Regions from separate parts of the Homo sapiens genome. Here region 1 is linked to region 2. A link means that fine-mapping ties the variant in region 2 to the expression of a gene that starts in the linked region. Tissue or cell type: whole blood. Region 2 holds a variant in brackets; the other region holds the start of a gene. All regions are shown on one strand. Distances are from middle to middle.

The links. PIP is the estimated chance that this variant, and not a neighbour inherited with it, causes the effect.
Region 1: RNF170 starts here. The variant in region 2 is fine-mapped to the expression of RNF170 in whole blood (TOPMed, PIP above 0.99).

Annotation. Positions count from the first base shown.
Region 1 is chr8:42,893,906-42,898,905 of GRCh38, reverse strand. RNF170 (ring finger protein 170) reads left to right here and starts at 2,301. Exons shown (of 7, transcript NM_030954.4): 1 at 2,301-2,422. HOOK3 (hook microtubule tethering protein 3) reads right to left here and starts at 1,928. Exons shown (of 22, transcript NM_032410.4): 1 at 1,718-1,928. The coding sequence starts at 1,774. It overlaps MIR4469 (microRNA 4469), which reads left to right and starts at 2,631; the gene lies at 2,631-2,709. RefSeq lists silencers at 1,310-1,369, 1,380-2,169, 2,350-2,709, 2,505-2,716 and an enhancer at 2,623-3,184.
Region 2 is chr8:42,965,419-42,970,418 of GRCh38, reverse strand. It overlaps HOOK3 (hook microtubule tethering protein 3), which reads right to left. Exons shown (of 22, transcript NM_032410.4): 10 at 3,806-3,946; 11 at 2,205-2,406. Among named protein-coding and RNA genes, the nearest start is that of HOOK3, 71 kb to the right of the region's middle. The variant C/A (reference allele first, on the strand shown) is at 2,082.

The DNA of each region.
Region 1 (5,000 bases), 72 kb after region 2:
TTTGCCCAATTGTAGGCTAAGGTAAGTGTTCTGAGCACGTTTAAGGTAGACCAAGCTAAGCTACCGTTTGGACGGTTAGGCGTATGAAATGCATTTTCAACTTACGGTATTTTCAACTTATGATGGGTTTACCGGGATGTAACCCCATCGCAAGTTAAGGAGCCTCTGTACACCTCTTTATTTCCATGTCTTCTTTCTCCCTAGATTTTAAACAATGTAGCCCTACTTAGATTCAATTAGCTTCATCTTTGCCTTCTGGCTGCTTCTTCTAGCATAAAGGGAAGCACTACTTGCACAGTCTCAAAAACTTAAATCTTAAGTTCCTCAGCATTCTGTTTACAGATGTACAGATTCTGCCAAATCTATTCCTTCCACAACATCAAAGAATTTAGTAATTCTTTCCTCTCTCTCTCTCCCCTGCCTAGTCAGAAACCTCAGCCACATTATACAACTTACCAGTCTTCCTCTTTTCTGAAATACAGCAGTGAAAGCCATCTCCTTGCCTGGAGGGAGAACTCATCAGAAGGGTAAGCTGCACGCTAACTACATACTACTGCTAACGATCTGAAATCCCCTAAATGGTCTGATATGCAACTGGCTACTCAAGCTCTACCAAGTCTGTTTCAGAGGACAGAAATTGATTCGTGACGTAGCCAAACTATAAAAACCTCAGACTATTTTTATTAATTTTTTTAACAACCAACGTAAGGCAATACTTCTCCAGCCTTTCCAGCAAAGTGCCTTGCACAGGATCGTGACGTCTACACTCCAGGGATCCTGACTCGTAACCCAAGACACCGCTAAAGAGAATTTCTCTCACATTCGTGTTTTACCTTTAAAAGTAATACAAATGCTGTAGTAGCCTTCATAAACACATCCGTAAACATTTAATTAACATTCTCAGCAATGAGTGAAACGGAGGCTCCCGAAGGCAGCGCGGGGTCCGCCCGGGCTCTGCGCATCCCTCCCCCTCCCCGGCCGCGCCGCGGCGAGAACGACTGGAACCCGGGCGTCGGTTCCCCTGCCGCGTCCTGAAGACCCGGCTTCAGGAAGGCGCGGCAGCTGACGTGAGAGGTGAACATGTATTTACTTCAAAGTATGAGGAATCTAAAACCGTTTAAGAATTCAAAATCAGAATCCCACGACTCTGTCCCCCAAGGCCTTCGAGTTCCATTGTTGACGCCCAGACACCTCCAGACTCCTTTAAACGTCTGCCCGACGCCTCTGACAGGCGTCCGCCCCTCGCGCACTCCCACCGCCAGCGGTGCCTTGCATCCGAAACGGGGTCCCCGGGCGCCTCCCGCATTCTCCCCACGCTCCCTCACAGGTCCTTTCAGTTCCCGGGCCGGAGCCGGGCCCGTCCTCCGCGAACGCGGCAACAAAGGCGAGGAGCGGCGGCGGGTCCTGGACGCGGGGCAGTCAGGCTCGGCCACCCCCAGAGCGCAGCGCAGCCCCAGCTGCGAGCAGCCGCACGGATCCCAGAGTCGCCCGCCGCGTTCCCAGCCCAGCCCCGGCCGGGGTCCGCCCGGAACAGCGACGCCTCAGGCCCGGCAAGTCTCTCTCGGACCCTGGGCCGAGCCTCCTCGCCCCGCCCGCCCCAGGCCCCGGATGTGACGGCACCGTCGCCCGCAGCGCTCGCCCCACGGGCCGCGCGTGGAGGGTCCCGGTAGGTGGCGGGGGGAGGGGGTCTTCCCGCCGGCCCGCGGCCCCCACGTACCCAAGTGAGGAGGCTCTCGCACAGCTCCGCCCGCTCCAGCGACTCTACGCTGAACATCTTCCCCGCCGCGGCCAGGCAGCGCCTACCGCCTGGCCAGACACCGCCGCCGCTCTGTCGGGGGATCCGGGGGCCCGCGCAGCTGACTCGGCCTCAGGCCCGCCTGCTCCTCGGATCCGGCCGCCGACTCTCGCCCAGCGCTGGCAGCGGCTCCGCACCGTCACCCCCAGCGCCCCTCCTTCTCCTTTCACTCGGGACCGCGCGCCAGCCGCGCGCGACTTCGGACACGCCCGCCGCCCCGCGTCCCCGCCCCCGGCCGCCCACACCGCTCCTCCCCAGCGCCGCCGCCCTGGCTGGAGCCGAGGCCGAGGAGCCACTGCGCACGCTCGCGCCCCGGCCGACCCGCGCCGCCGCGCCGCCGCCGCCGCCGCCGCCGCCGCCGCTGCCGCCGGGCGCGCCCCCGCCACCAGTTCGCTGCGTGTCGAGGCGAGCACGCGCTCCGCCCTGGAGGCTGCGGCGACGGGTCCTCCTCCGCCGTCCGGTCGCGCCCTCGCGGAAGCTCGGCAGTGCGCGTGCGCCCGCACCCGCACTCCAAATTAGAAAGGGGACGTCTAGTGGGTTGCCCGGGAGGGGTGGCGGGAGCGGTCCTGGAAATAATCTGTCCTCTGTCGCCGGGAACTGGCGAGGTAGTTCCTTCGCGGTGGAGAGGTACGTCCGGCGCGCGGCGGCCACGCCCACCCTATCGGGGCCCGCGGAGCCGCGGACGGCGGGGTCTGGCCTTCTTGGGGTAGCTCTGGCCGCCGAGGCTCTGCGGGGCGGCGGGAGTCGCCGCCTCCTTCCCCCCGGGCCCCTCCCTCGTCTGGAAGCCCCAGAATCGCCCCGCGGCTGTCCGGAGTCGCCGGCGACGGTGGAGGGGCCGACGCGGAGAGCGGCTCTAGGTGGGTTTGGCGGCGGCGAGGACACCGCCGCTCCCTCTAGGGTCGCTCGGAGCGTGACCCTGAGAACTCTCCTTAATGCAGGAGGGGTGTGCGCCCGCTCGCCAATCCGTAAGGACACCGGCCGACCCCGGGCCTGCGTTTCTCAGCGTTCGGAGTTGCCTTCGCTTAATGGCGAGGCGGATCGTTCTGGAGCTTCCACCTCTTTAGAGGCACGAATCTGTCTGCTGGGCTGCCGATAAATTTTTAACAGATATAGCATACGCAGAAAAGTGCATACGACATACACGTTTAAAGAAGAATTAATAAAACACCCAGATAAAAACGAAAAGGGCATTACCGGCACCCCAGGAGTTTCTCACCCATGCCCTGTGCTCCTTTCGGAGCCTGATTGTCTCCTAGCCTGACTAGTGTGATCATTTCCTTACAGCTTTACCATCTATGTGTGCATGCGATGTCGTTTTCCTTTGCCTGTTTTTGAACTTTTGCGGGTGGATCACAGTGTGTTGTTTTGTGGTTTTCAATCAGTATTAAATTGGTGTACTGTGTATGTATAGGTAATTTTAATTGTTGCCTAGTATTCCAGTGTGAATAGAACAGTGAATCCATTCTACTCTGGTTGGGCATTTTGTTCAGACTGAGGCCACTCAGAACATGGCTATAAACATTCTAGTGTACCTGGAACGTAGTGCAAATATGTTGGAATTTCCAGGACATGCACTTTGGAGTCCTTAGAGAATTGTCGATGCGTAGAGTATGCATAACTACCACCCAATGCCAAATTTTTATTTGGAGTGCAACAAAGCTAACTTCCCAAGACACACTTTGCTTTGTAGTTCCTGGAACCCCTTTCCCCCACTTTTTTTCCATTAAGAGTAGGTTTTCTCATTGAGCACTGAAAACTGCCAAGACAGCATTGAGTGGGGTTTTTTGTTGTTGTTGATGGTGGTTTTTGAGAAAGGGTCTCGTTCTGGAGTGCAGTGGCGCAATCTTGGTTCACTGCAACCTCTGCCTCCTGGGCTCAAGTGATCCTCCTACCTCAGCCTCCCAAGTAGCTGGAACCACAGGTGCAGGCCACGATGCTCAGCTAATTTTCTTATTTTTTGTAGAGAGGGGGTCTCGCTATGTTGCCCAGGCTGGTCTCAAATTCCTGGGCTCAAGTGATCCGCCCGCCTTAGCCTCCCAAAAGTGCTGGGATCAAAAGTGTGAGCCACCGAGCCTGGGTCAGCAGTGAGTTTTTAAGGTTGCCTTACAGAGTACCACTTGATAGTTGACCCCTGATCATTTAGCATTTTGTAAGTGTAAAAAAAAAAAAACTTACCTGAAGTATTCTCAATGGTCTTTTTTTCAAACATTCTTCCCTACACCAAGGGCAGAGAAACCTTTAGAAATTACACATACGTGGCCAGGCGCGGTGTCTCGCGCCTGTAATCCCAGCACTTTGGGAGGCCGAGGCGAGCGGATCACGATGTCAAGAGATCCTGGCCAACATGGTGAAACCCCGTCTCTACTAAAAATACAAAAATTAGCCGGGCGTGGTGGCGGGCTCCTGTAGTCCCAGCTACTCGGGAGGCTGAGGCAGGAGAATCGCTTGAACGCGGGAGGCTGAGGTTGCAGTGAGCCGAGATCGCGCCACTGCACTCCATCCTGACGACAGAACGAGAATCTGTCTCAAAAGAAAAAAAAAATTACACATGTGTGTCTCGCCTGTGTTTGGTTCCTGTGTTGGTGCCTCTGGATATTTGTCAAACTAGAGTTCCTACATTCCTTATCAGGTTATTTCTGTCGAATCTCTAGCACTTTTAAGTGACGTATAATCTTGTAGGCAAGTGAATGAAGTCAGTGAGTATATGTCACATTGACTTACTCCTGACTCACATGCAGCTTGTCTTTAGATGGGCAGATAAGATGCTGGCCCTACTGGAGCGACTGTGGTTGTGCCGTCCTGAGCACCCTTCCTCCAGTGGCCCCGGTTTTCAAGGCTTTGACACAATGGACCTAAAGTCTCCTTTTTCAAGCTTGGCTGCATATCCACAGTGCTTTTGTGCATGATGTTACGTTGTTCTGGAGGTTTCATTTTGTAATTCCAGTTACCTTTGATGAAAGAAATTAGTAAAAACTTTTTGGATGTGAGTAATTGCAGAAGCCATGTGGCTGCTGAGTTTCTACGTAAGCCTTGGGGTAAAAAGACACTGAGATTCTCTCCTTTGTTCCAGGAAGTCCCGGAATTTCCTATTTTTCTATTTTCTCTGTGTGTTTTATTTTTTTTCCTTCCCTGAAAGCTTTGGAAATGCCTGAGGAGAGGTGAGTTGAACTTGTCTTAGCTGTCTGGTTACTCCGGTTAGTTGGAG
Region 2 (5,000 bases):
AAGGGAAAGCAAAGGGCTGAGAACAGACACTTTTGAAAAAGGACAAAGTATGAGAGTCTGCACTACCACCTATCAAAATTGCTAAAAATTTGTAAAACATGAGTGTGATATTGGTGTAGGAAGAGATAAATATACCAAGGGAACAGAAGAAAGTGTCCAGAAATAAACCCATATACAACATGGATATTTTAGATATACAAGGTAGAATTGCAGGTCATTGTGGAAGAAAGGACTATTAAATAAATGGTGGTAGGCTGACTGGTTATCCACACAGACAAAAAGAGTCTCAAAGGGATCCCTACTTCACACCCTACACAAAAATTAATTCCAAGTGGATTAAATACCTAAATGTGCAAAACAAACTTTAAATCTTTGTAAAGAAAATAGAGAAGATTAGACTATAACCTTATATAGGAAATAATTTCTTAAAATATAAAAAGTACAAATCATAAAAGTACTTTAAGTTCATTATGCTGAAATTATCAACCTCAAAAAAGTAAAAGGACAAGTCATAGATCCATAGGAGATTAAGTAAAAATATGTGCAAGTGATAAAGAACATCTAGAACATATAAACAACCTTTAGAAATCAGTAAAAGAAATGATTCAATTTTTTAAGTGGGTAAAAGATAAAAATAGGAAATTTACAAAAGAAATATGGTCAGTAAATATATTTGTAATCAGGGTAACATGAAGTATAATTAAAAGGAGACACCATTTTATACCCATCTAATTGGCAAATTTTACTTATTTTTCTTTTCTCAAGACAAGGTCTTACATGTCTCATGTTGCCAGCAGAGTCACATGCGGCACAAAAGCAAAGCTGGAATGCAGTGGTGCAATCATAGCTCACTGTAGCCTCTGAGGCCCAGGCTCAAGCGATTCTTCAACCTCATCCTCCCAAATAGCTGGGACCACAGGTTCATGCCACCATGCCCAGCTAACTTAAAGTTATTTTTAGAGATGGGGTCTTGCTATGTTTCCCAGGTTGGTTTGGAACTCCTGGGCTCAAGCCACTCTCCTGCCTCAGCCTCCCAAAGTGTTGAGATTACAGGCGTGAGACACTGTGCCAGGCCAGCAAAATTTAGTTTGCCAATACTGTGTGCTGGTGATGATGTGAAGCAACAGGAATATAAACTGCTTGTTGGTAGCACAATCACTTTAAGGAACAATCTGCTAATATCTAACTACATTGAAGATACTCTTAGACAGAAAGTCCATCAAGTTGTAAAACCTTCACACATATATAGTAGAGGACCTGTACAATACTATTTATATGGCATTTCTTTTAACATAGAAAAAAAAGCTGAAACATCCTGTAGGTCTCTTAACAGGAAAATAGATAAATTTTGGTACAGAGACTAACTGAGAGAGCAGCAGAAATGAATGTTATAAAGCTATACCTATCATGATAAACAAGTCTCACTGAGCAAAAGAAAAAAAAATTACAAAGAGTGCTTTCACTGTATCATTTATATAAAGTTCTGGAACATGTCAAAGTGCTATAAATTTTTAGGGATAAATATATATATGTAGCAAAAGTATAGAGAGACGAATGGGAATGAAAGCCGCAGCATGGAGGCTGCCTGTAACGAGGAGGGGGAGAGCATGTTTTATTCAAGCATGAATATTTACTGAACTATGCTTTTACATTTGTATATTTCTTAAGTATTACCTAATAAATAACTAACTAAATAAAAATAAGTAAATAAAATAAAAGTACCTGCTATGGAGAGTTTAAAGCTCTTTAAATATTAGATAAATATAAATAAATACAATAGGCCAGGCATGGTGGCTCACAGTGGCTCACGCTTGTAATCCTAGCACTTTGGAAGGCTGAGGCTGGTGGATCACTTGAGCTCAGGAGTACAAGACCAGCCTGGGCAACACAGTGAAACCCTGTCTTTACCAAAATACAAAAAATTAGCCAGGTGTGGCAGCATGCGTCTGTAGTTCCAGCTACTCAGGAGGCTGGGGCAGAAGAATAGCTTGAACCTGGGAGGTGGAGGTTGCAGTGAGCTGAGATCATGCCACTGCACTCCAGGCTGGGTGACAGAGTGAGACTCAGTCTCCTAAATGAAT[C/A]AATACAATAAAGAAAAGGTAAAAAACAGAATACCATGAAAACAAATTAGTAATTTTGGTAAGCTACATGTCATAACTGAGAGCTTGCCTGAAACCATCATCAAGATGCTGTGTTTCTTTTACCTGTCTCTTGTAGGTTTCAAGTTGACTTCGCGCTGCGTTGGCCTTTCTTAACTCTTCCTCTAGACTGACAGTATTCTGCATATACATGGTATTCTTCTCTTCTAAGAGTTTAACCTGCCGCCTTAAATCACCAAGGTCTTCTAGCTTCTTTTTATAAGATTCTACTTGACCTTCTAGTTTAGATACTTTATCAGAAGAATGTCTAGAATTAGATGGGAAATTAAAAAAATCAGAAACACATCCACACTTGTAAAGTTGTTTCAGTGTTAAGAAGGATTGCCAGGAAACACACATCTAATGAAATAAGACAAAAGTGATTCCAGGTTAATTTTCTGCACAGGTTAACAAATATGACCTAAGTTACAACTAAATGTTTAATGGAGAATAATAATTTAAGGAAACCAAGCAGGAGAGGGCAGCCAGCAGAGTCACATGTGGCACAAAAGAAAAGTAAGTTTAACAGTGTCCGAATAATTTGGCAATTATCAGTGACCACCAGAATAGCAGCTTCAGTGGGGTAGTGTGGGCAGATAGTGGGGTTGAGGAGAGAATGTCAATTTTACCTTATGTAATCTAAGTTTGGTTCTAGTGGGAAGGAGAGAGTAATAACTCCCTCTCTTTTTAAGATTAAAGAGACCTAAATGCGCGTGTGCATGTGTATGAAGGAGAGAGATTCAAAAGGCAAAAGAAATGAGGATTGATGTAACACAGTCCCCGCGTAGGCCAGAAAGGTAGAGGTCCAGAACACTGAAGAAGGAATTAGCCCTGAACAGGAGGAAGAATAACAGGTCTACACTCACTAAAGAAAGGGTGGGTGGGAACCCAGGGAAGTTTAGAGGTTTTGGAGACAAAAGACATGGAGAGTTCAGCAGTTCACGGCCTCTTTCTTCGCTGCTATAGGAGACAAGGTCATCTATTGAGACTAAGTCATGGGAGGTGTGTGTGGAGGGCAGCCGGGGAGTAGAATCCTGAGGAATCAGAATGGCTATGAGTGAGACAATGAGCAAGGGGAGGGCGGGCCATTGGGAAGAACCCAGCTCAGAAGGAAGCCACCAATTGGCAGGAGCACAAAACTATCAATTATGCATTTCCCCTGTTCTCAGTATTCAAAGAGCAAAAGTGGAAAATGTAGATGGTTGAGATAATCAACAGAGGATAGGAGACTGTACAAGCAGAGGGGTGAAAAAATGAGGTGACAGGGAGTGAGGCACCTCATGAGAGAACTGAAGGGGTAATAACAAGGCCCAGCAAGAAAATGAGGCCTTGCGGGCGTGGCGGAAGAACAGCTCCAGAGCTGTACAAGTAAGAAGTGATGGTCACAATTTCTATTTTACAAACACTTGTGTATCGCTTAATTGCCAGACACTGTTGCAAGTGTTTACAAATATAAATTCACTCAACTCCTCATATAAACCTGAGGTAGGCATGTGTATTGTTTCCATTTTGCAGATGAGAAAACAGCCATACAGAGGTTGCATAAGCAGTAGACCCGGGATCCCAGCCCAGGTAGCCTGGCTCTTAAGTTTGCTAGATCCTCAGAAACCCTAGAGTTTCTAACACCAGAGCCAAACTGTGCTGGGCGGTGAAGGTGAGGTTTTTACCTCAGCACGTCGATCTCATCTTTCAGAGACTGAGCTTCATCTGCCAAAGTGGTCAGTTCATCATTCTGTTGCCGAAGTTCAGAGATCTCCTTTTCTAACTCTTCACAACGTATTCGATAATCATCTTTGGCTGCTTCTAGTCTGTAACCGATATAAAATAGACCAAGAAAGCACTATTTACTGCCTCCTCATTCTCCTTAGAACAGTAAAAGAAAGATATAAAGCATGAGAATAAAGCCTTCTTGAGTATGTCTCCCATGTTAGTGGCCACAAGCTGCATTCTCAAGCACTAACTGTCATAAAAATGAACTCCACTGTCCCAAGTCTTGGGAACGGTGACAACTGGTTACTATTTCCCTACCAGAAAGCAAGACATCATGCAACATTTTTCTGAAATATTGCAGATACAATTTAAGGGCTTTTTTTATTATAAAATTAACACATATGGTCTGGCACAGTGGATTACAGTAATAAACCCATTATGTTAATAAAAACAACATACTCTTTATGAAAAATAACTATTTTCTAAAACAAAAAAAGTGAGAAGAGTGGCACTGTTTTATATTTTTGTGATTCTATTATCTGTTTTAATAGAAGACAGCTGGGTTCTCATATTTGTTTCTACATTCATCTGTTGGTGACATGTTGTTTTTTGGCTGAAGCATATGAAGAAAATCCAGCCTTGCAGACACATAGTCGGGAAAGAGAGGGTCTTGCAGATTCTCCAAAATGGTTATCAGAGGACCTCCAGGAGCCTCGACCATTCTTTGAACTGCTGACGTGGACCAAAGGGAATGGACTGTTTCTAAGGTTTCTAAGGAGCCTAAGAAAAGTTTATTACTTTTTCCTGTTAAGGTAAAAGAAAAAAAAAAATCCAGAAACATTTCACTGAGGAATAACAAGAATAGTTATGTTACCACACTCAGTTACTCAGTAAAGTAAAAATCTAATTGATGTTTAATTTCTGTTTTAACACTAGAAATCTATGGCTAGGGAAGAAACAAGTGATGACGCACTTTTTAGTAAACCGTAACAAAATATTTTCATCATACTCTTGTCTTTCGATTTTGTGCTTCCGTCTTATCTTGCAGGACATATTTTCCTTTTTCTTCTTTTTCCTTTCACCACCCAAAGGTCAAAGGGCCCTTCTTCCTTCCTTTTGGGCTTTTCTTCCCACAGAAGATGTCTGGAAGAT